4 separate regions of the Homo sapiens genome follow, and all the other regions are linked to region 4. The links come from fine-mapping of genetic effects on gene expression. A gene starts in region 4. Each other region holds a variant in brackets. All regions are shown on one strand. Distances are from middle to middle. Region 1 overlaps CACNA1E (calcium voltage-gated channel subunit alpha1 E). Region 2 overlaps CACNA1E (calcium voltage-gated channel subunit alpha1 E). Region 3 has its middle 47 kb from the start of CACNA1E. Region 4 holds the start of CACNA1E (calcium voltage-gated channel subunit alpha1 E).

What was found. PIP is the estimated chance that this variant, and not a neighbour inherited with it, causes the effect.
Region 1: its variant is the best candidate, but not a certain one, in a credible set for the expression of CACNA1E in whole blood (TOPMed, PIP 0.88).
Region 2: its variant is the best candidate, but not a certain one, in a credible set for the expression of CACNA1E in whole blood (INTERVAL, PIP 0.82).
Region 3: its variant is the best candidate, but not a certain one, in a credible set for the expression of CACNA1E in testis (GTEx, PIP 0.73).

The regions. Positions count from the first base shown.
Region 1 is chr1:181,503,118-181,508,266 of GRCh38, reverse strand. The region is part of intron 1 of CACNA1E (calcium voltage-gated channel subunit alpha1 E); the gene reads right to left. Among named protein-coding and RNA genes, the nearest start is that of CACNA1E, 22 kb to the right of the region's middle. RefSeq lists enhancers at 2,773-3,002, 3,423-3,542. The variant G/A (reference allele first, on the strand shown) is at 2,935.
Region 2 is chr1:181,523,144-181,528,292 of GRCh38, reverse strand. The region is part of intron 3 of CACNA1E (calcium voltage-gated channel subunit alpha1 E); the gene reads right to left. Among named protein-coding and RNA genes, the nearest start is that of CACNA1E, 42 kb to the right of the region's middle. The variant C/T (reference allele first, on the strand shown) is at 2,405.
Region 3 is chr1:181,434,054-181,439,202 of GRCh38, reverse strand. It overlaps a transcript of CACNA1E not described here. Among named protein-coding and RNA genes, the nearest start is that of CACNA1E, 47 kb to the left of the region's middle. The variant GTCTA/A (reference allele first, on the strand shown) is at 2,440.
Region 4 is chr1:181,481,377-181,486,525 of GRCh38, reverse strand. CACNA1E (calcium voltage-gated channel subunit alpha1 E) reads right to left here and starts at 3,009. Exons shown (of 48, transcript NM_001205293.3): 1 at 2,516-3,009. The coding sequence starts at 2,781. RefSeq lists enhancers at 1,162-1,291, 2,254-2,777, 2,778-3,302, 4,105-4,234, 4,286-4,818 and silencers at 3,655-3,784, 3,825-3,954.

The DNA.
Region 1 (5,149 bases), 22 kb before region 4:
AGCCTGGGTTGGGCAAAGTTAAGCAGGTTTCTCCCCAGCAGGACTTCTTGGGGCCTTTAATACTTTTGCATACAGTGGGCACACACCCCATCACACACACACACACACACACACACACAAGGCGTTTGGGACAGCACACAACATTTCCCAAACTTGCTTCACCTTGTAACTCTTTTTTTCAGAGCATCTCTTTTGAACGGTGTTCCCAGGAACATACCTGGGCAGCCTGACACAAAGTGGGGGTCTGTCTGCCAGTCCCCAAGAGCTGGGGCAGGAGGGATGATGGATCTGACTGGAGTGAAACCAGGGCCTCTTCCATGTCATCCCCTGTCCTGGTTCCTAACAAAAGTGTTCACAACAGTGTGGGGCTCACCTGGTCACTCCTCACAGCTGGAAACGTCTCATGCAATTTCAGACACCTGCTCAGCAGATCCAAGAAGCCCAGTGCCTGCCCTGGAAGGTAGGACTGGGCACAAGTACTTTCTCGTTCAAGCTGCAGACCTCTCGCATTCTAATGGGTCTATGTGGGGTCTATGATTGTTTTGGGGGGTTGAATCTTCTTCCCCTGAAAACCTGAAAGTGATAAGCACAGGCTTCAAAGTAGATGGGTTCTCAGTGCTGAGCCTGCAGGCAAGACAGGTCCTGGCAGCCATGTGCCTCCGAGGCCTCCCCACTCACAATACCCACTTGGACCATGGCAGCTCCTCCACTGCCCCTGACTCTCCACTCACAATATCCCCTTGGACCATGGCAGTTCCTCCACTGCCCCAGCTCCCTGCTTCCACACCCATACCTGCATTTTCCTAGCCAGTTAACCCAAGTATATTGCTCCCTATAAGGACCTTTAAGCTCAACTAGTCCAGAATGTCCAAGGGCAGATATGTGAGGTTTGTGGGGACACAGGCTAGCTCAGGAAGGTGTAGCCAACACCACCGGAAGATGCTCCAGGCAGCGGAATGGCTCTTGGCCCAGGTGCTGATGAGTCAAACTCCCAGTGACTGGCCAGGTATCTGGGTGGCTGAGAATTCATGAGGTCTTGATGGCTGGTGCTACCCAAGGCCCTAAAGTCTAGAATCTAAAGGTGGGAGTTTGGTAATTCACAGGTTCTAAGAAGACCCTATTCTCACTTCCTCTCCAGCCAAATCCTCTTCCCACTATCTGATGTGAGGCCCATTCACAGCAGCAATCTTCTGGCTTAAAAATATTTTTTTTTTTGCTTTACATTTTTAAAATTGTTCAGATATATATGCCCTTGAGAGGGATGTCCCTTTCAGCCTTATAGGGCATCTAGACCTCAGGATGAATTCATGGCTGCGGTAATGAAGAACCTGCAGTGAGAATGTGGAGATTCTGTGTAACTGTGGGCTAGGTGAAAGAATGGATAGTGGCAGGGAAATCTCAGGGGAGGTGAGCAGAAGAGACCATCCAAGTCTGCCTAGGCCCCAGCCACTCTCCCTTACAGCCCTGTTCTTTAAACTCTTTTCCACTTCCCTTTCTGAAGAAAGCACAAAAAAGAGGCATTTACATCTAGGTGCTTCTGCCACCACATGCAATGGCGTTTCTTCTCCTTTCCAGTCATACATCAAGACCAAGCTGAAATGCCACCTTGTCAGTGAAAGTTTCTCCCCGTGCCCCACAGCTCTTTGAATTGTGTGACTGTATTATTTCTTCTCCTATTTAAATCAAGAAACTATATCTTGAAAGCAGGAGTTTTGCTCATGTCTCTACTGGCAGTGCTTAGCAGAGCCCATGGTATATAGTAGGAGCTTAGTCAATGTTCAATGCAGGTAAGAATGAACATGAGGCATTCACTAAGGAGCCATTACAAAGACAGGGCTTTGCTCACCCACTCTGGCCTGAGCCATGGCTCCTGCTCACTCCCACCCTTGCAGGCTGCCTCCGAGGCACCACTCCCATTTCTTCCCGACAGCAAAACTTCACACCCCAAAGCAATGGCTCTGCTACATCCCCAAAGTGAAGAGCCTAGACGGCAAATAACACCCACCCACCAGTCAAGCTAGTGCCCCTCAACCTGGCAGACTGGACAAAGACATGACTTAGAAAGGTCAAAGGGAGCTCCGAGTCGCCACGGCCTCAAAGACCATCACCCTTCATGGCAACCACAATCAGGGACAAGATGGAAGTCTGTCCAGGACTCTGACTCTCTGTTCTAGAATTCAGTGACACTCATTACACTCTGTGCCTGACACTGTGCATATTTTAGGGAAGAATATCTATCCCTGGTATCCAGATTGCTTGTGTTTTGAAATCTTGAACAAATGGAGATGATGGGGCAGTAAGGACTGGGAGCCCCAGGGCAGGACCTTGCCTGCCTCACTCACCACTGTACTTGGCACACAGTGGGGCCCCGGTAACTGTTATTTTATTAATAAATTAATATTCAATTGATAAATGAATCATACAGGGAAACTAGAGCCAGAGGTATCCTTACAAAAGGTACCCACACTCTCCACACTGTATACCCATTTGAACTTTTTATACTGTCCACTGTAGACACACATGACCTATTTAAAAAAGAAAATAAACCAGCATACATGGAAGATCCCTTTCATGTTTAAAAAAAAAAAGAGAAGGCCAGGTGCGGTGGCTCACGCCTGTAATCCCAGCACTTTCAGAAGCCGAGGTGGGCAGATCACGAGGTCAGGAGATCAAGATCATCCTGGCTAACACGGTGAAACCCCATCTCTACTAAAAAAAATACAAAATGTTAGCCAGGCATGGTGGCACGCACCTGTAGTCCCAGCTACTCAGGAGGCTGAGGCAGGAGAATGGCGTGAACCTGGGAGGCAGAGCTTGCAGTGAGCTGAGATCGTGCGACTGCATTCCAGCCTGGGCAACACAGCAAGACTCCGTCTCAAAAAAAACAAAAACAAAAAAAAAGAGAAGGGAGAGAACAAGAAAAAATTCTGTCTT[G/A]CTGGAAGGATGATGAGTCTTCTCTCGGTAGCAGGGTTATTTTCACTTTCTTCTTTACTCCTCTAACCATTTTCTGAGTGTTCAAATGAGCATGTGTTCATTTATCACTACAAAATCAATTAAAGCTATATGTATCCTGAAAAGAACAAATCAACACAAAAACCCATCCCAACCTGAGAGTGAGGAGGAATGCGATGGCCAGAGAAATCAGAAAAAGACTTCGGAGAGGATTAAATGCAAGAGAATGAAGGGACCTGGCCAAAATGAGGAAATGACCATGAAACCACTTTGAAACTTGCAAAAGACATCTTCCTTCCTGCCTTCCCTCCTGTACCAGCTCACTGCTCACTAGAGGCCTCATTTCATAAACTTTACTGGCAATCTCCTCAAACACCCCTTCACTCCTCGTTCCCTCTGAGCCCATTAATGAGGACCTGTGTTGCTCCAACTCTCTTTCTAGTCTAGCAGTTTCAAGACAATCATTAGGGAAATGATAAAAATAGGTTCACTTATTGATTTATCTCCTTTACCCAATGCTCCTTCCTTTGAATGGTTGACTTGTTTCCTTAGCAACATGGCTAATTTGAGCAGCACGACGTGGCCTGCACACCTGCCATTTGTTCATTTCCTTCTTGAAGCACAGAAAGCTGGGGCAAGGGTGGTGATGCTGGTTCTGCTGTCACCGGAGCCCTGGGGGCCTGGCCTGGAGCTGAGCTCTTCATCTGCCTGAGCCTGAAAAGCCTCCTCATCATCACCTCTCAGGTACAGATCTGTAGGTACATGCTTGGGAAGGACTTAGGCCTCAGGCAGTAAATATTGGGTGTCCCCAGGCAAACATGCATCTCTATCACCACCAGGGGGCTCATCCTGAAGACCTCTGTACTTAGCTGTCTCCTCCCAGAGCCTATGACATCCGAACACTAAGAAGGCCATGCTCTGACAGGCAGGCAGATAGAATGCTGTGCACTCTCCCAACTTCAGCCTAATGCAGAATATGCTTTTGTGGGGAGCAGTCGGTGGGCACTCAGGCACTTCCTGGAAACTCCTGGGGGGGTATAGAAGAGTCCACAGTCTGAGGGGAGGCATTCCTCAGCCTCCTTTACCCATTTCCACCCCTCACCCCAGACCCTACAGGAAGACCTGTCTCCTTTTCTCCCTTCAGTCTCATGTTTTTGGATGTCTAAATCCAAGAGATGTAACAGCCTCAGAGGATGGCATGGACACCTTCATGCATGTCTTTCCACCTCTTCTTCATGTGCACATAAATATCATCCTAATAAGTGGACTTTGACTCAAAGACAGTAACAGAGAAAGAGCCTTAACTAGTCTGTGATTCCCTATTAGCATGACACCAAATAGACATTTTACATATGAACAGGAATGAAATACAGCTATCCAAGCCTTCCGTGTAACTTCAGAATCTTCTTCAAGACCTGGAATGCAATGGAAAAAATGTAGCTTGGTAAAGGAAACCAGAGCCAGGCCTCCGACTGCAAAAGCTGTCCCAACACAGTACTCAAGAGTCAATGAAGGGTTATGACCATCCATTCCCACAGAACCAAACAAGAAATACAAAAGGACTGAAGCCTAAAATGATACCGGAATCTGAACTCCCTCTGAAAACTGTAAAGTGTTGCACAAATACAGTTACTTTCAGTATCCTACTAACTCAATCTTTCAGCATCTACTGTGGCTCAATACTTTGGGGAAAGCATCTGTTGGTGGTTACAGCCTCCAGCCCTCAGGAGTGGGCTGGCTGGCTGTAGCCATGGACTGACACAGAGGAGACCAACTCCAATAAAGGATTTAAAAGAAAATTATGGTAATGGGCCTCCAGGAAAAGAGCAAAGACATTTGGCCCAGAACCTCCTGAGAATATGGAAAGCGCATCCAAACACCAGTCCCCAGAGGAGGATTTATGAAGCTGATGGCTCTGATGCAATCTCTCCCAGTGATTAGAAGGGATATTAATCACACCCCAGGCCAGGGCTAAGAACAGGAGGGGTTGAACCATCACAGAAGTCTGGCTCCAGTTCCCACAGACCCTGATGGAAATGCAGTGAGATCATGCTGGTGAGATCATATGACCCTCGTCTGAGCCGACTGAGAAAGATACATCTGTCCTGGAGGGACGAGTAATGCCGAAGACATAAGACCTTGTGCCTAAAACCCAGACATAGCAATAGTTATGACCATCACTTCAACAGTGTGTCTG
Region 2 (5,149 bases), 42 kb before region 4:
CTTACATGGCAGCAGGAAGAGAAAAATGAGGAAGAAGCAAAAGTGGAAACCCCTGATAAACCCAGCAGATCTCATGAGACTTATTCACTATCATGAGAATAGCATGGGAAAGTCCAGCCCCCATGATTCAATTACTGCCCCCCCCACCCCGGGCCCCTCCCACAACATGTGGGAATTGTGGGAGATACAACAAGTTGAGATTTGGGTAGGGACACAACCAAACCATATCAGAAGTGGAAAGATGGGGAGTAAAATGAAACAGATAAAAAATGGTCTTCACCACAAGAGTTTGATAATCCAGTAGATAATTATAAAAAACTGGTTTAAAAGATGCTGATCAATACAGAAAGAAGTAAGAAGAAAAATGAAGAAACAGTAATAAAGTCTAATAAATAGCAAATAAAATAAAGGAAAAGAATAAAAACAAACCATTTATTACAATAAATATTAAGGTGTTATATTCTCTCAAAAGAGGAAGACTCAGATAAGTAATTGGAAAGCAACAAAAACAACATAGAACTATCATGAGATTTTGATTATATAAGTAGGAAGGCATGGGAAGTAAGTAATGAACTAGAAGGGAAATAAAGAGGATCTATTTACTGAAGGTACATTTAAAACCAGAACTGGAATGAGAATTCAAAAAAGAATACAGAGAGAAAAAGAAGACCATATATATCAGCCAGCATTTTGTTCACAGCCAGCTGATACTGTGCCTTAAAGATATAGCCCTACTTTAATATTATCAAGTGAGTGTAGCTATTCAATTATATTTTGAAACCTGTATCAAGATAAATTAAGCTATAAATACAGATCAAAGATGAAGTGATTCCAGGACTCTAAAGCCCACTGTAATAGACTGAATGTTTGTGTATCCCCAAAATCCATATGTTGAAACCTAATCCCCAATGTGATATTTGGAGGTTCAGCCTTTAGAAGGTATTAGGTCATGAGGACTCTGCTCTTATATGGGATTAGTGTCCTTACAAAAGAGACACCAGAGAGCTCCCTCACCCCTTCTACCATGTGAGGACACAGACAGCTGTCCAGCAGCCAGGAAAGGGGCCTTTGCCAGGCACTGAATCTGCTTTGATCATGGACTTCCCAGTCTCCAGAATGTTGAGAAATAAATTTCTGTTGTTTATAAGCCACCTGGTCTATGATACTTTTGATATAGCTGTCCAAATGGACTAAGAAATTAACTCAAGATTTAGTATGTTCTAGAAGCTAGCATAATCCAGCACAAGTAGCAACAGATTGAAAATACAAGGACAACAACTTCATCCCAGCTAGGGCAAGTTTTTTGTGGGGGCTAGAGTAACCCAGAGAATATATTTGTTCATTATATGCTTCCCTTTCCTCATCAATAAACTATAAAATAGTAGCAGGTACTATTGTTGAAAATCTACTATGTGCAGAGCACTGTTTCAAATGCTCAACATATATCATACCAGTTTAGTCTCATAAAATACTCAGAAATACCCTAAATCCTTCATTTCCCAGTAAGGAAATTGAGGATGAGAGGTTAAATAACTTGCTCAGTGTCACAAAGCCAGAAGCAGACTTCAAATACAGAACTATGTCATGCCAGAGCCTTTGTTCCTTGCATCTTGCCAGGCTGTCCTGTGTTATAACTCTAACCTATTGTTAACAGGCTAAATGGACAATATTTCTAAATTGATTTCAAGATCAAAATGATATAGAAAAACCAATAATCTATTGTTCTCTTAATTCCCTTCAATAGAAGCCATTTTTCCAGTAACTAAAACCAAGTAGTGAGTTTTATATTCCCTTGGATGGATTTTGACATCCAGACCAACAGATACACCCTTTCACTTTTGTTAATTAAGATGCATCAGGAGTAAAAAAAAAAAAAAAAATTCAGACCATGCAGCCACTAGATACATAAATTAGGAAGGCAGTGTAGCATCACGGTCAGAAACCTAAGCTCTGGAGTCAGGCTTCCTCATTGGAATCCTGACCCCACCAACTAACTATTAGCAGCATGATATGGGGGAATTACTGAACCACCTAAGCCCTGGTTTCCTCATCTAGTAGTGATTATAATAGTACCTACCTCACAGGGATGTTGCCAAGAATTTTTTAAAAATCCTTTGAAATGTTTAATGCAGTGATTAGCACTGAACACCAGCTATTAATTAGGTCCACAGTCCTGAATAACTAGGTAATCTCTGCTCTCCTTTCCATTCTTCCCCTCCCTGCCTCCTGACCTAGCATCCCTGCAACAAAGGCCAATTTCTGAATTAAGGAGCCCTTTTCCAGAATTGTGCACTGGAAATATCAAGGAGGCTGAAAAATTTGGGCAACTGCTTTCTGAAACTCCTTTCCTTAGGGCTATAAACCTGAGACCAAACTGGCCTTTTTCCATGGAAAAGGATAGCTC[C/T]CCTAGATCCAATTACCCCACATAGAAGCCATGTCATAAACTGCAACAAGCAGCAACATAATTAACATCCTCAAGGACCACTCCAATCTATGGCCACAATAATAAATCCTTCTCCAAAGACTCGTGACAACCATTTATTTACTACTGACTCTATTTGTTGTAGTTGCACACAGTTCATAACTAAAATTCTGACTTCTCAACCTTCTTTGTGCAGGCTAAGGATAGAAAAGAAATTAGTAAATGGAAAGGTTGGTTTTCCCTCTGAAACTGGCTCCTGATCCTCTGTTTTACTAGACTACAGAGTTTAGAGTTTGACAAATGTTAACCAGTAGTGATATCCAGGCCAACATGGACATTTTATAAATAGCCTCAGCTGGCTGACTACCCCTAGGCTTTGCTATCTTGAAGAGGACAAAAATAAGCATGACAACAAAAATAAAAAAAATATGAAATACACTAATTGTTTCTCATGCTTATCTTCAAAGCTTGATCAAGAGAGGTGGCAACAACAGTTCAATGGCTAGTTACACCAGCATGTAGTGTGTCAACAGCTGCTGCATTAGGGCAAAGTGAAACCACATTCCCAGTGATCTTCCATCTCTTCCCTATTTAACTCTACTGCTGTCCCTCCTACTGCTCACCGCTAGGCCTTACACATGGGACCCATTCAATGAAAGGAGGATAGATGGACAGATAGAAAGCTGATTGCACAGAGTAGAGCACATTTATTCCCAGTTTTTTCTTCTGATCAAATGTTGTCAAGCTCAAATGAAAATCATCTACCTATATATACTATCTACACATCAGACTTAAAGTTCCTTGGGGGCAGGTATCTTATTATTTATCTTTCTAGCCTCAATACTTAGCAAAATGTTTTGTACACACATAGCAAATATTTCTTGACTCAATGGATGTTACTAATAATTAGAAGAAAACATTTATTATATATCTCCTATGCATCTGACAATTTATACTCACATAGATAATGAAGAGATCATTACTGTCCTCCAAAATTGATGCTCTCCTTCCCACAGGGCAAGGTTGTTGCTAGAAGGCAGCTGCCCAATTAGGGATTAGATCTCCCAGTCTCACCTGCAACTAGGCTGAGCCACATGGCTGTTCCTTGTCAATGGGATGTGACTAGAAGTAATGTGTATCAGTTCTATACCAATACATTTAAGGAGTATGCCTTATTCTTACTCTCTCTTTCCACTTCTCTTGAAGGGACATAAACCACGAGATCATAGAGGACAGCAGAGCTACCAGATAGAAGGAGCCTGGGTCTCTACCTCACCAAGTGGAGGGAAGCCAGGAGCACTGTTCAGGACACACTGGCCTGTTCAAGGAGCAAGAGAGAACCTACTATGTTAACCCATTGAAATTTGGGGGGTTATTTGTTAGAGCATCTAGCCCTGCTTAATCTAGTACATAAATCTTGCAAGAGAGGTATTTTAGATTTTAAAAATGAGACTCCTATAGCCTGGACCAGCCAACCTGGAACAAGCTCTGTACGGGTCACATTGTTCCCAGCTGCCTTAGGACCACACATACATTCTATTCCAATTAGATTGCTCTTTTTTAAAAAAGGAAACATACCATTTATTTATAATTATTTCACTTTATCCACAATTTCCCATACAAACATAAAATATAAAAAAATAAAACCACCACTTGGGAATGTGAGTGTCTCTTTCATAGTCTGGTTGAGGGATGAGCATAAGCCCTCTCACTTTATGAAAAGGAAAAGAGTTAGGAATAATGCCTGAGAAATGGCTCTGCATGAGCAACCTAACTCATACTAGTGTGGGGTGGTGGGGCCTCACTGGCAAAGAGACTTGGGGTGTCACCTGCTGGGGACAGCATGGCTTCCCAAAAGGATGACAGCTGCTTGCTCCCAACTCCCAGACCTCCACTACCAAATACCAAAAATCAAACACGGGCCATATATCTCGTGAACTCCAATTAGACTGTTCTGTTCACGAGTGAAGCATTGTATCTAACTTCTACTTCTACTTTCCCCATCACCTCTACACAAGACTGAAGACCAGCTTGACTAAAATCAGGCTTTAGCCACAGGCAAAATGGGGCATACATTGCAGTTCTGGGCCTCATCTCCTTCTTTCATATCAATGGGTTAGTTACACTGAACTAGCAATTCTCATTCTTTCAAGTGTGAGGCTCTCTTTTTAATGTCACAAATTCAAGACCAACCCCATCCCTTGGAGGAGTTATTTCAATTACTATAGCCCCTTAACAACATGGTTAAATAATTGTTATTACCCAGAGCCATTCCTTTTTCTATGCAGATGGAGACATTGAGACTTAACAGAAGCTGGGTCACTTGCCCACAACCACAGTACTAGAAAACAGTAGAGCAAAGATATGAATTCAGGTTTGCTTGTCTATGAAGCCCAAATTCTTAATCACTATGCTATATTGAATAAATTAAAAAAGAAAACAATACTACTCATTCAACAATACTTTTAGATGTATTTATATTTTATAAATCACAACAGCATCCACACACTACAAAATATACTATGTTACATATTTGAGGGAAACTTTATTCAGGAAACAGCCAGTGCTTGTAGGTGACTTCTTGTTGCTTAGAGTTCAGACCAGTCACAGCTGGGGGGAGTGGAAATCATTGGAAGTTCCTCCTCCTTTATTTGCAGTACTAGCTAGTCAAACTTTGACCTGATCAGATTCCCAGTAGGGAGATCCCACCCCAAACTTGAATTTGCT
Region 3 (5,149 bases), 47 kb after region 4:
TCCCCCTTCAACCCCCTGCCTAGCATGGGTACCATCTCTGACATATTTAACATACAAACTTAAATATTCAAATATCCAAATCAAATAGGAAAAGTTTGGTAGGTATGTTTTTAACTTAACATATAAGTCATAATATGTTATAAATCTCATCCAGTTCCTATTGTTTTTTACTCAACACTGTTGTGAAAATCTAACCATGCTGCTATATGTGTTTAGGCTGTCGCTTCTCCACTGCATATCCCTCCCATAGATGCTCCACCACACTTTATCTATTCCCTTGGAATGGGTACCTAGGTTGCCTCTAAGTCCCTGCTATCACAAGTAAAATACTACAATGAAATCTTTGTACACATCTTTTCAGAATTTATCTAGGACATATATACCCAAGAGTGGGATTGCTGGATTATAGGTCAGGCACACATTTCACTTCACTAGATTCTTCCAAAATAAGCGTACCAGTTATGCTCCCACCAGTGTACGCGTGCAAATTTCCATCTCCCTCATCAGTGACAAGAGTGGTATGATCCACCTTTCTGAATTTTGCCATTCTCATGGGTATAAATAAATTTCTCCTAATTGTTTATATTTGTATTTCTATATTGGGGATTTCTAGCCTAAAATACCATCTGAATGACAGTCTTTGATTTAGACTTTCCCACTCCCCACCTGATGATTTAAAAAAATAAAAAGGCAAAAGCAAATGGTATTTTTAAAAATGAGAATGGAATTGGAACAAACCTACTGCCCTGAAAGAATTTCCATAAATGCACCATTCCCCATCCACAATTCCAGCTCCACATCATATGGACCTAGGGATTGTACTACCCAGAAAACCAGGAAGTCAACTTCTCTTGCATGAATATAATTTTGGAAGTAGAGAGAATACTTTTGCCCACTCTAGCCTTCAGTTCCTCTGCTTCTAGAGCCATTATGAGACCAAAACTCCTAAGAAAAGGGGCCGGAAGTGAAAGCAGTGGGTGGAAGTGGCCGTGCATATCATGTTCTGAGACATATGCTACTAAACAAGGAGGGCTGAACTGGGCTCAAGACTGGTCCTGGTGACAGCACCCCAAGGGAGTATGGCCACCATTCTCACCACACACCTCCCTTAACTGTTTAGTATAATCTGGAATTGGAGCCACACCATAGATGGTAGTGTCATTTGTGGGGAAAGGAAGACATGAGGAGGAATAGACTGGAGGATGGCATAAGTCAAAAGTTCCTTGGACCTGTTCAGTTGAAGACTCTCATTAGACACCTGAGTTAAGATGTCAAGGGAACAGCTGGATTTCAGCCTCAGGAGCTCAGAGGAGAGATGAAGGCTGAATCTATAAATGTGGGAGTCATTTACATGTGGATTTATGTAAACCTACAAAAATGGGTGAGATCCTGGGAGTGAGCATAGACAGAGAAGAGAAGAGGGCCCAGAAGCCAGCCCTGGGGCACACCTACATCAGGGGTATAGCAGAGGAGCAAGAACCAGCAACAGAGACTGGAATGGGACAGCCAGTGAAATAGGAAAACTAGAACAGCATGCTACCACAAAAGCCAGAGAAGCAAATGCTTCAAGAATGAGAGTCTAAGTACTCTGAGAAGTCAAATCAAATAAAGACAGAGAAAGAACCATGGGACTCAGGAATGTGGGCATCACTAATGACCTGAACAAGAGCAGTTTTTGTGAGCAGACCACCTGTTAGAGTGGTTAGGAGGGGCAGGAGATGAGAAAGTGGGGACAACATTCGCCACTTTTCTGAGAAGTTTTGCTATACAGGAGAGCAGAGAAATGGGACCGAGGATAAAGAGGCGTATGAGGTAGCAAGGATTCTTGTGTTTTGTTCTTATATGTGACATTCTATTGCATGTTTTTACACTGGTGGGATGATCTAGTAGAGCTGGAGAAATTTATAGCACAGAAAAAAGAAAGAATGAGATCAAGAGCAAATGTGGAAAATTTTAAAAGAGAATATAAAACTGTCAGAAGTTAGTCTACACATATTGGCCATGCAGTGAGCACAGAAGTCTGTGGCAATAAGAGGGTGTTGCATGGGCTCCAGGGTGACCACATGTCAGAGAAGCCTCTGGCAAGTGCACAGAGAAATTGCTGTAGTCTCACTAGAAACATGCAGTTATTGACGGCTCTTGGTTTTTCGTGTTTTAATGGATAACATGCTTTTTTGGGGGTTTTCTATTATTTTAATTCATTTTAATTGACATAATAATTGTATATATTTATGGGGTTTAATGTGATGTTTTCATATATATTTAAATTGTAGATTTTACATGATAAAATCAAGCTAATTAACATATCCATCACCTCATATACCTATTTGTGGTGAGAACATTTAAAATCTACTGTTTTCGCAATTTTGAAATACGCAATCTGCTATTATTAACTATAGTAACATGCTGTGCAACAGATCTCTAAAACACATTCCTCCT[GTCTA/A]ACTAAAATGTTGTACCCTTTGAACAACCTCACCCCTTTCTCATCCACCCCCCTCGTCCCCAGCCTCTGTAACCACCATTGTACTCTGTATGTCTGAGTTCAACTTTCTTGGGTTCCACATATAAGTGAGCTCATATGATATTGGCATTTCGGTGCCTGTTTATTTCACTTAGCATAATATGCTCCAGGTTCACCCATGTTGTCACAAATGACAATTTTCTTCTTTCTAAGGCTGAAAGTATTTCATTGTGTATACACACCATATTTTCTTAATCCATTAACCCATTGATAGACACTTAGCTTGCTTGCATATCTTAGCTATTGTGAATAATGAGACAATGAACATGGGAGTGTGGATATCTCTTCAAAATATTGATTCATCTCCTTTGGATATATACCCAGAAGTGGGACTACTGGATCATATGGTAGTCCTGTTTTTAGCTTTTAAAGAACCGCCATACTATTTTCCATAATGGCTGTATCAATTTACATTCTACCAACAATACATAAGAATTTCCTTCTCTCTACATTTTCACCAACATTCATTGTTTGTCTCTTTTATTATAGCCATTCTAACAGGTGTGAACTGATATCTCACTGTGGTTAAATTTGCATTTCCCTGATGATTAGTGATGTTGAGCATCTTTTCATGGATCTGCTGGCCATCTGTGTGTCTTCTTTTGAGAAATGTCTGTTCAGGTCCCCTGCCCATTTTTTAATAGGGTTATTTGTTTTCTTGCTCTTAAGTCGTTTGAGTTCCTCATATCTTTTTAATATTAACTCCTTATCAGATGTATGGTTTGGAAATATTTTCTCTGTGAGTCATCACTTCACTTGGATAACAGATGTTTTAAAGCTGCATTTTATTGCAAAATATCTTGTTATAATGTTAGGTTATTGCACAGTATTTTGTTATCAATTATTGAACTCTTTGGACTTAATATACCTCAACTCCAGAAATATCATTAAGCTGAAAAAAGCCAATCCTAGACATTCCAAGGAAAGGAACTCCTTTGACTGTATTAGTATCAATTTGAGAATTCAGAAAGGTAGGCGGATGCATTCATTCATTCAATAATATATATTGGGAGCCTACTATGTGGCAGACCCTGTCCTAGACATAAATAAATGGCCATGGTTCTGGCAAATAAGTAATTACAATGAAATAGAGTGGTCAGGAAAGTCCTCTGAGAAGAGAGATGTGAGACCAGACCTGAAGGATTAATAAATAAATAAATAAATAATCAGCTACACATAGAGAACAGAATGCAAAGTTCTAGATAGAAGGAACATTCTATGGGGGTGGCTAAAGCTAAGTGTGAGTAAGAGTACAAGGAAATGGTACCTTGCTGCTAGTGGAGGTATAAATGATGAACATTTTCAGTAGGGGGAGCAATTAGATAATTTTCTGTAGTAATTTCACTTCCAGTAATTTATCCTAAGGAAATTCTCAAAACTACAGTCAAAACTGCATATTGCCTCCCTGTAATTCATTCTTCACAGAGCATAGGCAAAGAGAATTTTTTAAAACCTAGATTAGTTTGTTCCAGTGGTGTGCTGGTAAACATTTAACAACTAGCTCTCTAGGGGAAGAGTAGCATCTGCTATAAACTCCTGTGTTATAAATATAGACAGTCCTGGGCTTATGATGGTTTGACTTATGATCTTTTGACTTTAGGAAGGGTTTAGATGGTGTTAAATGCAGTTTTGACTGATGATATTTTTCACTTACAATGGGTTGATCAGATTGTGTCCTGATAAATCGAGGAGAATCTGTAACTGTCTGCAACCCAGATCAAGCCACTTATCAACATGATTTCACTGAATAAGGAGCTGGGAAGAGACGTGCCAAGAGGCTCTCAGAAGCTCCCATGAGCCCGCTCCAGCACACCACTGAGTAGGCATCCCTCCGCTGCACGGAAGCCTCCAGTGCATGTCTCACACCTTGCAATGAAGTCCACAGTCCTCACCCTGAGCTCCGAAGTGTTCCCTGACCAGGTGGCTCCTGCCCACCTCCCGTAGCTCCTCCCACCACACCAAACCCCCTGCGCTCCCTGCTTCTGAATTTTGATTGAACTCCTCAAGTTCACTTCCACTTCAAGGTCTTTAACTTGCTCTTCCCCAGATCTCCCCCTTGTCATTCAGATGTCTGCTCACACATCACCTAACTCAGAAAGCTCCTCGCTGCCCACCCTACCTGAAGCTCAGGGCATCATCTTGTTGTATGTGATTGATAGCCTTTTCCATATCCAAACTTACCCTGCTTATTGATCATGTCTCCCATTAAAATTTAAATTCCATGAGATCAGACACTTGTCTGGTCTTGGTTACCCCTGTAATTTCTAGTATTTAAAAAAAAAAAAAATTGGCCAGTAGTAAGTACTCAATAAATATTTGTTACTGATAAACTGATTAATTTATAATAGTAAAAAAAATTAAGCCACTTAAGTGTCCAAAAATAGGGAAATGGTAAAACTAACATTTATGGATCATTTACTATCTGCCAGGAACTATGATAAGCACTTTATATGTCTCTCTCATTTAATTTGCACAACAGACCTATGAGGTGAGCACTATTATAATCACCACTTTACAGATAAGGACATACCCAGAGCGGTTAAGCAATTTGCCAAAGCCAGTCTGAGCCAAGTAGGAAAGTCAAGCCCAAGGTTGCTCCACAAGCCCAGCTCATCTTAGATTCCAGGG
Region 4 (5,149 bases):
GACAAAGCAAGATACTTGGGAAGTTATTTGTTTAGAAAGGAAAGGAAGGTGAGACTAGGAATTTAGGTGCGTTTCCCACGGAAGCCCAATGTTTCCACGTGGTCACCACCAGAGGGAATATATTAGTCAATTACATTGTACATGGTGTATTTTATATTTTCCAACAGGGCTCCACTAAACACCTTAGCAGATGTTCCCTGAACACTGTTACCACAGCCTACATGCTGTAGAACCACTGTGAAATTTCCAACTATGCAGACAAAAGAGACCATTGGGACAGGGCTCGGGGCCAAGGCACTGAGCATGATGCTGAAATCAACTCCCTCGAGAGTCTCCCGTTTGACTCTCTTTGGTCCATTTTTGGCCAAAGACAAGGAAAGGGAGGAGTAAGACTCACAGCCGCACCTTGCGCGCTCGCAACGCCTGGTGGAAAGGCGGTGTCTTTGCAGCGGAAGAGAAAACGTGAAAAAAGGTGACCACGTGGTGTAGGAAACGTGCCTGGTTTCTCAGCTCCAAGGCTGGGCCCGGCCAGAAGTACCCGAGGTGCTGAACCCGGGTAACTGGGGAGCCCCGGGCCGCCGGGAGTTTCAGCGGCGCTGTCCGAGGTGCCAACGATGGCTGCTGGCACACTTTGCCACCCGCGGGGCGGTTGGGCGGCTTTGTCTACCGCAAAGAAACGGGAGGGCGCCTGTCTGAATAAACACGCCCCTAAGAGAGGGGCACAGCAAGGCAGCACCTGGTGGATGGGAAGATTTAGAGAACCGTAGAAGCCGAGTGAGAAAGGAGGGCCCAGCTGGGAAATCCGTAGACTGCCTAGAGGAATATTTGCAGCCGCAGCACACAACACAATGAGATCTGTCCGCTTTGTGCAGCGCACCGGCAGGCGTGACTGCAGGGACCCGACCCCTCCCCCGCCCGAAACCTCCACCCTAGCTAGATACGTTCAACTCAGGCAATGGATGGCCTGGGATCACTCTGTGAGAGTGGAGCAGGGGAGCGGGATGCAGAGAGGAGAGAGGGAGAAGCCCAGCCGGGGTTGCTGTGGGAGGATGCGAACAGCAGCAGGAAGAATATCTGCTTAGAGATGCTCCTTCGTTTCTAATGAGGGGGTGCTGCCTAGAAGCACCACGCGCCAGCCAATCACCGAGCTGCTGAGGCAGGGAACTAGAGAAGAAGGGGAAGGCCAGAGACTGGGGTTGGGGGAGTAGGGAGATGCCCAGGCCCTGGGGGAAATGAGCCGCGTGTCTGGCTAATACTAGAGACCCAAGGCAGCTCCAGCTGCCTCACTGCTGCACACCTGGACGGTGGGGGTGGGAAAGAGGGAGAATAGGGGAGAAAAGAAGGGGCCTCCATTGCAGATGCATCCCTCCCAAATCTCCCTCCCAAAGTCCCATGTCTCCAACCCCATCCCCATATTTAACGCCAGACCACTAGCTTGCCTCCTACTAATCCCCTTCACTGCCTCACCACCCCCAATTCCCAATGGCCTTGCCAGGCGTCCAATCCTTAGTGAAGAACAAGGCAGTGAGCTGCCTAATCAGCAGTCTGCATTTGGTGCACTTGATTAAACCTGCAAAGAAGCTCCTTCCATGCCTGTTCACCCTGACACCACCACCATCAGAGATGGCCCCCACCAGTGCTTTGGGGAGAGCAGTTCCTTTGGAGCTAGGGAGAGAGAGACTGCATGCACACCTCTGGCCTCAGCGGATGAATTCAGGCCCAGCCGATCCACCTGGATCCTGGATACTGGGAGAGCAATCAGCTGGGTCAAGCACTAAGAAGCAAGAGTACCCAACCAAGGACCAAGGACAGGATGGGCCTGATGAGCTGCTCTTTCTTGGCTGAGAGGAGAACTCCAAGTTTGAGCTCCTTGGGCTGTGGCAACAGAGATCACCTCCCCTGACAGACACTCACTCATGCCACTTTCAGTGGAACTTAAACTTAAGTCCCTAGAGTTAGCTGAGTCCCCACCCAAAAGCCTGTTTTATTTATTCATTTGTCTATCTGTACACAGGGTTTTGGCCCTGGGAACTTCTGAACTGATAAATCCCCTCATGGAGCCTTGACTTCCCTACAGGAAGACAGTGCGGTGTCTCCTGGTTGGTGGGGATACGGGCAGAGTGGCTGGCTTAAAGAAAGGAAAATGAGAATTAATTATGAAAGGAAGCATTGGGGCAACCCAATCTATGTAGAGGGCGGCATGTGAAGGGAGTAGGGGTGGGGAGGGGGCTGGGAATCAGACAAAGCCCAGCCCAGAAAGGGATGCACCCAGGGACACTAAAGATTTCCACATAGGAAAAATAAAAAACCAAAAGTCTTACCTTGAAAAACACTAGTGCCCAAACGGGTCTCCACGGCACCAAGCTTGCCCCTTAGATGCACCGAAGAGTGTGCTTCAGCAAAGGGGCAAATTGGCACCAGGAAGGGGTGGGGGATACATTCCATGCTAGGTACCCCCCTTCACCCGAAGAAATGCAAAGGGGGAGAGGGAGTTATGGTGGGCAAGAAAGGATATGGCCAATCGATGAGCTTCTTGGCATATTTCCTGACAATGTTATCTTCTCCGAAGATGAACAGGGATCTGTTGACGGTGAAACAGTTCTGCCGGACGGGAATGGGGTTGTACAAAGCCATAGTCCGCGCCCTCTGTGCTTTCGTCTGCTTGTAGGCGGCCGCCTGCCCCGAGGCCGGCACGGGGGTTCCTTGCCGGTTCCTGCTCTGGTCCGAGTCTCCATCGCCGGACCCTGGCCTGGCGACCACCGCCTCCCCGAAGCGAGCCATCCTGAGGTTTAAACAGACAGAAGACACACAAAGGTGATCGCGGCCGAACACCCGCACACAGCAACAAGCAGAAAGACACACGGAGACTCAGAGCCGCATCCAGACAAGCACGGGGACCACCGCCTCTGGGGAGCTCCGCGAGCTCTTCGGAGAGGCAGCAGCAGCAGCCCGCCGCTGTGAACTGTTGAATCTAAATGCAACCTCTGCGAAGCTCCATTCCTCAAGAAGGAAAAAAAAAAAAAAGAAAAAAGAAAAAAAAAGCGGGTGGTAGGGCTTGGGGGTGCCCAGTTTCTGGAGGAAAATATTTTTTTCAAAATGCCAGTGTGTGGTGGTGTTCAGGGACCAGAGAGGAGAGGGGTGGAGTAGGCTGCTCTTCAAACATAGCTCCTCTTCTGGCAGACGCACCACCTAGTTCAGGGAGAGAGGCAGGCACCGGCCCGCTAGGTAACAGTTTGGTGATTTATTGGTTGGGGGAAGGGGTGGGAAGGAGGGGAAAATGAAAACAAAAGAACTTTAAAAAAAAATAAACAAAGACGAGGACGGGGTTACGATGACATGCTTTATAACGCCAGCCCCTGCAAGTCCATCTAAGAAATTCCACCGCGAAGACTTGGGTCTTTATATCTGCCAGCAGAGACGCATCCAAAGGTTGGAGAAAGAGGGAGGGAGGTGGGGAGAGCGATATTGAGGTTCCTGCGTAAACCGCAATGCCCAAAATCTCAAAATAAGAAGTCGATCCAAGCGAAAAGGGACAAATGACTTCAAAGCTCCTGCGCTTGGGCTAGAAGTTGAGCAGCATCCAGAGAGCAGCGAAGCCTGAGTGCCAGCATCCGCCCGGAGCGCTCGCCACCGCCGCCTCCCCGGATCAGCATGCAACAGCGATCCGCGGCTGCGCCGCCGAGAGGGCGGGAGTGCGAGCGGGCGGGCGGCGAGCACCGGCGGGCGAGGAACAGGTTGCAGCCGAGCCTCGCGGCGGCCTGGCACCACACTTGTCCACAGACCGAACTTCCTCACTAACGGCTCAGTCTCCCTCTTCCCCGCAGGCAGCGCCCTCGGCGGAGCACTGGAGAAGATGCGGAAGGAGAATGGGGAGGCGAGGCAGAGGACAGCGAGCGGCGCGCAGAGGCGCAGCGAGGCGCGCAAGAGCGCTGGGAGAAGCGGGGGAGGAGCTGGCCAGGCGGGAGGGGCGGGGACGCAGCCGGAAGGCTGGAGGTTCCTGGAAGGTGAGGCTGGCTTGCCTTCTTGATTTATGTGGCCAAAGGGTAGCAGCCACCTCTGCAAAGGTCCAGTGAAGAGTCCCCTTTCCCCCAAGTAATGCCGAGAAGAGAGAGGCAGGTGCAGCCAGCGATGCGGCGGAGTCTCCGCAAGAGAGCGAGGGCCTGGCGTGGGGCGCACACGCACGCGCGTCTTGGGTCCCTGCAGAGAGGTGTCCCCAGTGCTGTGCCCTGTTCGGTGCCGGGAGCGGTGCCACGGGCCCGCCGCCGCCCTAGTAAGGTGTCGGGGCCTTTGCGCGCCTAGCGCCATGGCCGCGTCGCCGCTCCTCCGCACCTCCCAGGCTCCACGAACACGGCCAGGCATTTCCAAGTAGAGGGCAGAACCCTCTCCCCATCTCCCCACTTAGCACCTGGGAGGCCCCGTGGAGGAGGCTAGGACCTCTGGGGGTTCCACACTCTGCTGGTGGTGCTGGCTCCTGGCGGGAGCTTCTGCCCTCACGGGGCGGCCTCCCGGTTCCGCTGTAGGAAAGCCCTGCCCGACGTCTCCTGGAAGGGCCCTCCATGGTGAGTTATGGGCTAAAACTACCCTTCTCGAAATGCGAACAATCAGAAGGATCCTCCCGCCCCCCATCCTTTACTCCCAAATAAGCTCCACGGACTTTCTCAAACCCAACCCATTAATGTAGAAAAAAAAAAAAATAGAATTGGTATCTGAGCTGCAGAGGTGGGAAAGGTGGACTCCAAGCCCCAGGGAAAGAGCTCCTGTTTAGCCGCCAAGCCCTTCCCCACAGGTGACTGGTGGTTTGAACTGAGGGCAGGGACCAGCTGTCCCCTCCCATGTCCACACTAGCTGGGGCACACCGTCTTCTGTGTTTTCCTGCCTTGGCTCAACACATAGGCCTCTCCAAATCCTTCCAACCCGAACAATGGAAGGGAAGAAGGAAAGGAGGGGCTGAGGAAGGAAACAGACACTGACCAAAGCCCAGAGGTTGGAAACCATGGGTGAGTATGGCTTCACGCCTGTGAAGTGAGATTAACTGTTGAGAAGTGAGGTGATGTCTGAGTGCATGGCATGTGTGTTTCTACGGGTATGTGTCTGTCTGTGGGCAAGGCCCTGTGAGCACTGACATGTGTCTGTTGTGTGAGAATGTATG